Regions from separate parts of the Homo sapiens genome. Here all the other regions are linked to region 1. The links come from fine-mapping of genetic effects on gene expression. A gene starts in region 1. Each other region holds a variant in brackets. All regions are shown on one strand. Distances are between the middles of the regions.

Evidence for each region. PIP is the estimated chance that this variant, and not a neighbour inherited with it, causes the effect. A credible set is the group of variants that fine-mapping cannot tell apart.
Region 2: its variant is the best candidate, but not a certain one, in a credible set for the expression of PTPDC1 in nasal epithelium (TOPMed, PIP 0.90).
Region 3: its variant is the best candidate, but not a certain one, in a credible set for the expression of PTPDC1 in subcutaneous fat (GTEx, PIP 0.55).

Annotation. Positions count from the first base shown.
Region 1 is chr9:94,083,375-94,086,044 of GRCh38, forward strand. It overlaps PTPDC1 (protein tyrosine phosphatase domain containing 1), which reads left to right and starts at 1,090. Exons shown (of 9, transcript NM_001253829.2): 1 at 1,090-1,400; 2 at 1,877-2,048. The coding sequence starts at 1,157. RefSeq lists a silencer at 1,013-1,307.
Region 2 is chr9:94,105,661-94,108,330 of GRCh38, forward strand. PTPDC1 (protein tyrosine phosphatase domain containing 1) reads left to right here. Exons shown (of 9, transcript NM_001253829.2): 9 at 2,168-2,670. The coding sequence ends at 2,284. Among named protein-coding and RNA genes, the nearest start is that of PTPDC1, 23 kb to the left of the region's middle. The variant G/A (reference allele first, on the strand shown) is at 1,205.
Region 3 is chr9:93,711,589-93,714,258 of GRCh38, forward strand. No RefSeq gene overlaps it. Among named protein-coding and RNA genes, the nearest start is that of MIR4291, 110 kb to the right of the region's middle. The variant T/C (reference allele first, on the strand shown) is at 1,078.

The sequences.
Region 1 (2,670 bases):
GTCTTATTCGACAAAAGTGCACATTACTGGGGAGATGGGGGCGGCATTTTAAAAGGAGCTTGGTATAGCATTAGTAATCGTTAAAAAAAAAAAAATAGAAAATAGCCTTATCTGTAGCAGTACAGTAGTTTGTTTCTGTGCACACACATCTGAAATACCACTTGTGCAGAGAGCTAGCGAGCAAGCGAGGGCGCAGCCTGACATTAACAAGGGAGGAGGCGGACAATGAGTACATTAGTGGTTGTTGCACTTTCTGTTTTCTTTATATCCTTTATCTTCAAGTTGCAACCTCCCCCTCATCTAGTTCCTTTAAAAATGTGATATTTAGTGATCTTTCTTTGTATGCCTCTGCCAAGACATTATTGAAGCTTCTTTTTTCCCTCACTGCAACAAAAGGCAGAGAATGGTGTTTTGAGTTTTTGAGAGGCATGGCTACTATAACTGTCCAACAGAGGCATAACTAAGAATTGGGTTTTTATATTCTGAAAATGAACACATGAAGTTAAATGTCTTCTGATAATATATCACCTCTAAAAATGTCTTTATTTGTTCTATCCAAGTATTTCTTTAATAGTTTTACCAAGAAAAAATAGAAGTGGTTTTGGTTATGAAAAATTGGATGATATTTTAATAATCTTGTAAGGTGTCCAGCATATCCCACTTTATTACAATTAACTTTTTTCTGCACTATTCAAACGAGGAGTAGAAAGGTAATTTTTTTCAAAATATCCAGAGACAGGTTGTGAACAGAATAACAGAATTTAAGCCTTTTAACATGTATGTAAAAGGCAGTTTTTGCATCAGGAAGACAGTTTTCTAAATTCACTACAGTATTTTGGGGAGTAATTCTTTGGTTAGATATTTTAAGTGCATTTGAGAAACAAAATTTAGTAATCAATATATTTAAAATTTATATTATTCTTCCCTATATTTGAACAATTTGTCCAAAATGCAATCTGTTCATATTGGATTTTGCCTGTTCAGATCTAAGTGGGAATCAGTAGTTTCTTTGTTTGTCGCCATGGAAACCAGTCAGCCAATCTGAATGGCTCTTAGATCATACAGAACGATGCAATGCTCCCTGCTCTCAGTGAAAGTTCCTCACTGAGTGAGTGGGGCTGACTCTTCCTGCCTCCGGCTCTTGCCTCCCAGTGCCATGCAGGTGCAGGATGCAACCAGGCGGCCCTCAGCCGTGCGCTTCCTCAGCTCCTTTCTCCAGGGCCGCCGGCACTCCACCTCAGACCCAGTACTGCGGCTGCAGCAGGCCCGGCGGGGCTCTGGCTTGGGCTCCGGCTCTGCCACGAAGCTGCTGTCCTCGTCCTCTCTCCAGGTGATGGTGGCTGTTTCCTCAGTCAGCCATGCAGAGGGAAACCCAACTTTCCCCGAAAGAAAAAGTAAAGGTCTCTTTCTTCTTATAGATTGCCATACCTATGTATATAAGTTTGAGGAATGGGAATCAGCTGTGTTGTGTTTATACCTTTTTAAATATTGGCAGTTTATTCTATATTATACTTTTTGCTGTCTGTTATGCTATTTTAGTGAATATATAAGAGGATATAAAATGATCAAATGTTTTGTGTTTTTTTATTAAAAATATAGGTTTGAACAAAACTCATTCTCTTGTAAAACATCTGCTTCTACAGTTTCTTCCTCCTAATTGCCAGTATGTGTGGAGATTATTATATGTGAAAGCTTTTTTACATTAAGAGATATATGTCACTTTGACAGGGAAACAGTTTTGTTTTCTTGACAAGATGAAGGTGATTTTGCACTGGCTTGTCATCTACCATCCTGAGATAAAATGGAAGCTATTTCCCATGTTACAATTTCATTTGGAGAGTGGAATTTTGAATTTTCCTTTCCTTATATGTTCTAGGAAATTTAGAACGTCCAACACCAAAGTACACAAAAGTAGGGGAGCGTTTACGGCATGTCATTCCTGGACACATGGCATGTTCCATGGCGTGTGGCGGTAGAGCTTGCAAGTATGAGAACCCAGCCCGCTGGAGTGAGCAGGAGCAAGCCATTAAGGGGGTTTACTCATCCTGGTGAGTGATCCTGTTGGTCTTTCATAGCTCTGTTGGATACAGGAAGGACACTCTGTGTGAGCCAGGAGCCCTGAAGTGTGGGAGGAGCAGTGTGGGACTTTGAAGTCAGGACCTCACTTTGCCAGTCAGTTCTGGCTTTGCCTTAGCTGTGTGATCTTGGCCTATTGACCCTCAGTTTCTTTATCTGTAAGGTGGAAATAATAAAACCAAAACCATAGGGTTTTTTAATTAAGTGAAATGATATATATAAAGTGTATTGAAGAAATGGATAATTAGATAGCTCTTAAATTTCAGAAATGTTTAGAAATAATAAAACTTCAGCTATAAATTTGAGAAAATTATGATGTACATGTGTAATTTTTCAGTTTCATGTAGGTAAGCTTTAGCTTTTATGTTATTCCTATATTCTATATGAAAGGTCACATTTTCATACAAATACCCTTCAGTCTACCCTAATAAAAGTGGTACAAGTTGTCAGCTCAGTAGAAAACATAAGATATTTGCTTTTTTTATGGTGTATAAGTGAAATTAATATTGTTCTTTAATCATACTGCTTTTTATTAAACAGTAAACTAGTCAAATACACCTTTTTGATGTAGTAACATCTGAAAAATTCTGATAA
Region 2 (2,670 bases), 22 kb after region 1:
TGTCTCAAAAAAAAAAAAAAAAAAGTGGCCAGGCATGGTGGCTCAAGCCTGTAATCCAAGCACTTTGGGAGGCCAAGGTGGGCAGATCACGAGGTCAGGAGATCAAGACCATCCTGGATAACATGGTGAAACCCCATCTCTACTAAAAAGAAATACAAAAAAATTAACTGGGTATGGTGGCAGGCGCCTGTAGTCCCAGCTACTCGGGAGGCTGAGGCAGGAGAATGGTGTGAACCCGGGAGGCGGAGCTTGCAGTGAGCCAAGATTGCACCACTGCACTCCAGCCTGGGCGACAGAGCAAGACTCCATCTCAAAAAAAAAAAAGTAAACAATTCACACCATTATTAATGTTAATAAGGAGTTTTTTGCAAAGGGGATAGATAATATAGTTATAGATAAAATTAAATTCCTGAGCTTAACTGAAAAAAATCCTTACGATTGGTCTCTCTGAAAGCAGTAGGAATTCTTTACAACTTCTTTTGGCCTTTTAAGGGGATACGAATGAAAAGTTAGAGATAACAGTTGTTCAAAATCTGTCTATAGAAAATGTTAGGAGACAGTTTTCCTTGGGTCTCTCATGTCTCTTCATAGTCTGATGAGCAGATGCCCTGACCACTCTCTTTGAGGATCAACTCTTCACTAATGTCTGGAGAGCTCTGCCTGGAGAGCAGAAGGCACACGTTCTGACTTCCAGGATAATAAAAATGTTTCCCTTCAGGGCAAAGGTTGGCAGATTTGCTTGCAGCCCCCTTGTGAAACATTGGAGTTTCCTAAGCTTGGGGCTCCTCAGCTATGAGGCAAACCCCGTGCTTGTGCAGCCTCCACCTAGGCCCTTCTGCATTGCCTCCATGAGACTTGAGAGACAAGGAGAACCCATGTGAACATGAAGCACATGCAGCTGTGAGAAATAAAAGTTGTCTGTCTCTGACCCAGGAATCTCGTATCTTCTACCAGTATCCATAACACTGGCAAGCTAACAGGTTAAGGTCTCAGATCCTTTACAGTTGTTGACAGAGGGAACAACCTTTCATTTGTCAAAATTTATCAGAGAGGGAGAAATTCCAGAAGCAGAGAAGCAGTGATTGTGTGACCCTGATTCTTTCCCAGGGAGTTACACATTACTCTGGGAATGGGGTTGAGGGTGGGTACTTGCTCTGGTTCTCTGTCCTGCCATCACTGCTAACCCAGAGTATGGTAAACTTGG[G/A]TGAAAAATGCAAATATGTGTAAATAGTGCGCTCCCATCAAGGGGAAAGGAAATTTACTTTATCAAGGTGGGGTTTGTTTGTTTGTTTGTTTGTTTGTTTGTTTTTTGAGACAAGGTCTCACTCTGTCACCCAGTCTGGAGTGCAGTGGCACAATCTCAGCTCACTGCATCCTCTGCCTCCTGGGCTCCGGCAATCCTCCCACCTCAGCCTCCCAAGTAGCTGGGACTACAGGCATGTGCCACCATGCCTGGCTAAATTTTTAATTTTTTGTAGAGATGAGGTTTTGCCATGTTGCCCAGGCTGGTCTCAACCTCCTGGGCTCAAGCAACTCTCCCACCTCGGCCTCCTAAAGTGCTGGGATTACAGGCATGAGCCACCACACCCAGCCAGTTGAGGTTTGTATATATGTGCCAAACATGTTAGACTCATAGATACGCTATCCTATGAAGGTGGGTATCATTATCTCTGTTTTACAAAGGAGGAGATCAAGGTCCAGAGAGGTTGGGTATGAGATGAGGACATGTAGCTGGCAGGTGGGGAGCTGGGCTTCTATTCAGGTCACTCTGACCCTGTCCAGAGTGGCCGTAGGGCCTCTCAGCAGGACGTATACAGCTGATGTGCTGTTTTAATATGGGAAACTTTTCTCTTATACCATCAATGATTAGTCTCAAAAAATTCACTTCACACCCACTGTTGACTTGCTTCATGACTGGGTGTATATAATTAGACTAAATATCCAGGCACTAGATTTAATTTTGGGGTTTTCATTCATAAGTTTGATATTGACATGGTTGGCAGTTCTAATAGTCTTTCAAATAAAATGTGTGAAATTTATTATGTGTATTTTATATAGAGTTTTGTTTGTAAGTCTGTTTTTTTTCTCCACCCCCTCCTTCTCTCAAAATAGAAACTAGTTCAAATTCTTGTTACAGTGTCCTGAATATAAATTTCTTTGTCACCAGGTTAATTTTGATTCTGAAAATGGACCAACAGTTTACAACACCCTGAAGAAAATATTTAAGCACACGCTGGAAGAAAAAAGAAAAATGACAAAAGATGGCCCTAAGCCTGGCCTCTAGCTTTCACTCGTGGTGAATATTTCAGACCTAAAGATCCAGATAGTATCTCTGTTCATATGTGAATAAGTTGAAGATTGTGGGGCTACTTTTTCTCATAGCACTTTATTTTGAATGTTGTTAGTTTGTGCTGAGAATGGTCGTCCGTATTTGAACCAATTATTTATTTTAAAATATATTTAAGCTACATTTTTGTTTTGAAAAATTGCCATAAATTTGGTGCCACTTTCTTTTATTTATTTGACTGAGTTAATATTATTGTATTAACATTTTAAGTATATGGTGTTTACATTCTTATTTCTTTTGACATTTTGGAAATAATCATAACTTGTCTTTCCAAAATAACCATTTTCTTGATGGAACTCTTCCTAGAGTTTTTACCAAATAGC
Region 3 (2,670 bases), 370 kb before region 1:
TGGGTCTCACCCAATCCCTCTAGGGCCCAAATAGAGCAAAAAGGCAGAGGAAGCGGGGATCTGCCCCTTTTCTTCCTGCCTGCCTGTTCGTGCTGTGACTTTAGTATTCTGACCTTAAACTGGGACCTACACTCTTAGCTCCCTTGCTTCTCAGGTGTCTGCACTCAAACTGGAATTACAGCACTGCTTTCCTGGGTCTCCAGCCTGCAGACACCACACTGCGGGACTTCAACCCCTCCGTAAACACACAAGCCAATGCTTCATAACGCATTGCAAATGCCTTCTCATATATATATATATCTGAGAAAGAGAGAGGACATAGAGATTCAATATATGTTTATATATCTCAGTGTGTGTGTGTGTGTGTGTGTGTGTGTGTGTTATGTGTGTGTGTGTATAATTAGCCATCAGGGAAATGCAAACTAAAACCATAATACCGCTGGCCAGGAGTGGTTTTGAGGTGTAATCCCAGTACTTTGGGAGGCCGAAGCAGGCAGATGTCTTGAGCTCAGGAATTCAAGACCAGCCTGGGCAGCATAGTGAGACCCCATCTCTACAAAAAATGCAAAAAATTAGCTTGCCATGGTGGCATGTGCCTGTAATCCCAGCTACTTGGGACCTGAAGTGGGAGGATCACCTGAGACTGGGAGGTTGAGGCTGTAGTGAGCCAAAATAGTACCACTGAACTCCAGCCTGGGTGACAGACTGAGGCCTTGTCTCAAAAGAAACCCCCCGAAGCAAAAAAAAAGAAAACAAAAAAACACCCCACACTACCACACTATATATGGTGTGGACAGAGGAATATTCTCTTGGTTCTGTTTCTCTGAAGAGCCCCAACACACCAGTGCCTCTCACAGATTACTTCTAGTCATCACATGAAAACAAGTAATAGGCAAGAAAACAGGGGACCTATTACCTGCTTTTCACAGACGGTGAATGTGACTTGTAGGGAGCACATCTTACCCAAGGAGGCAGCTCTGAAGTTACCCAGAGAGCACAGGAACCCAGTTCTTTGTGACTCAACACTAAGGGGTTTTCACTGCCCCAAAGCTCACCCCATACTTGTTGAATGAAAAA[T/C]ACACAAATGGAAACAAGCCATAACCAGCGCTGTGGCCTGAAGGGCATGATGGAGGTGCATGAGCTGTCTGTCCCCAGGGTGAGCAAGGCCAGAGGTCAATTTCTTGCAGTTTCCGGGAAGAGATCTTTTACCCAACTCCCTGACATTTTTCTTGGTGGCAACTTCCCAGCTTCCCTGGCTATTCTCTTCCCAAGGTGACATTCCAGAATGCCAGCACCTCAACAGACAATATTCTGAGGGATCAGGGCTTTTTGCAGAATAATCCTGGCTGGTGACTGGGACAAACCTCGGTTTGTGGCTGCAGGGAAGTGGGTAGCGCAGGGGCTGCCCAGGTGGGGTGCAACGTGGGCCCCAGACCGTCTGTCTCCATTCCATCACAGCAACTTCTTTCCCCTTGCGGGTGTTCCTGGCAACTTCCTCCATGAGAGGAGATCTATGAGCAGACCCAGGCGGAGCCAAGAACTTGTGAATGGTCCAAGTGCCTTTAGGTCCAAGTGCCTTCCCCATGAGGAATGGAGCCGTGGCGGGCAAAGCCTCCTTTTCAGCACACATCCCCTCAAAGTCCATTTGTCCCGGGTTTATGGGCACTGCTTTTTCAAAGGCATGGGTTTTCAAAGGAGGTTCAGCTGCATTCCTGGGGCTGACCTGGTAACAGGCAGTTTTTTGAGATAATGTCACAATTTTCTAGTTGGACTTCATTGGTTCTGGGGTCAGGGATTGGTACTATGGAGGGGAGTCCCAGGAGGTTGAGACAAAGAGAAAGGTTTCCAGAGTTGGGTGTGGTCCCCTGCTCCAACAGTGTGGGCTCTGCCGTGGTGAGTGGGAAGCATCATTTTGTTACATTGCTGATTATCTTAAATTACATTTTCTATCTAGAGTTAAGTGTAAATTCACATGCAGTTGTATTAAATGATAAGAGAGATCCTCGTACCTTTTTACCCTGCTTCTTCCGACGGTAACATCTTGAAAAACAACTGCAGTACAGTGTCACAGCCAGGATACTGACATTGACACAGCGCAGACACGGAACACTTTCATCATCCCAAGGATCCCTCATGTTAAACTTTCATAGTCACATCCACTTCCTTCCTTCTCACCCTGTCCCTGACCCTGGCAACAACTAATTTGTTCTCCATTTCAATAATTTTGTCATTTCTAGACTATCATAGACATGGATTTATATAGCATATAACCTTTCCTGGTTGGCTTTTTTTCCCTGACTCAGCATAACTGTTTAGAGACTCATCCACAATTTTGTGTACATCATAACTTCCTTCCTTGTGGTTGCTGAGGGGTGCCCCATGGTATGAACATACCACAGGTTAGCTCCGCCCACTGAAGACTATCTGAGCTGTTTCCAGCTTTCAGCTATTACAAATAAAGCTAATATGCCTGTAATCCCAACACTTTGGGAGGCCAAGGCCGGCGGATCACAAGGTCAGGAGATCGAGACCATCTTGGCCAATGTGGTAAAACCCCATCTCTACTAAAACACACACACACACAAAAATTAGCTGGGCGTGGTGGTGCGTGCCTGTAGTCATAGCTACTTGGGAGGCTGAGGCAGGGGAATCATTTGAACCCGGGAGGCA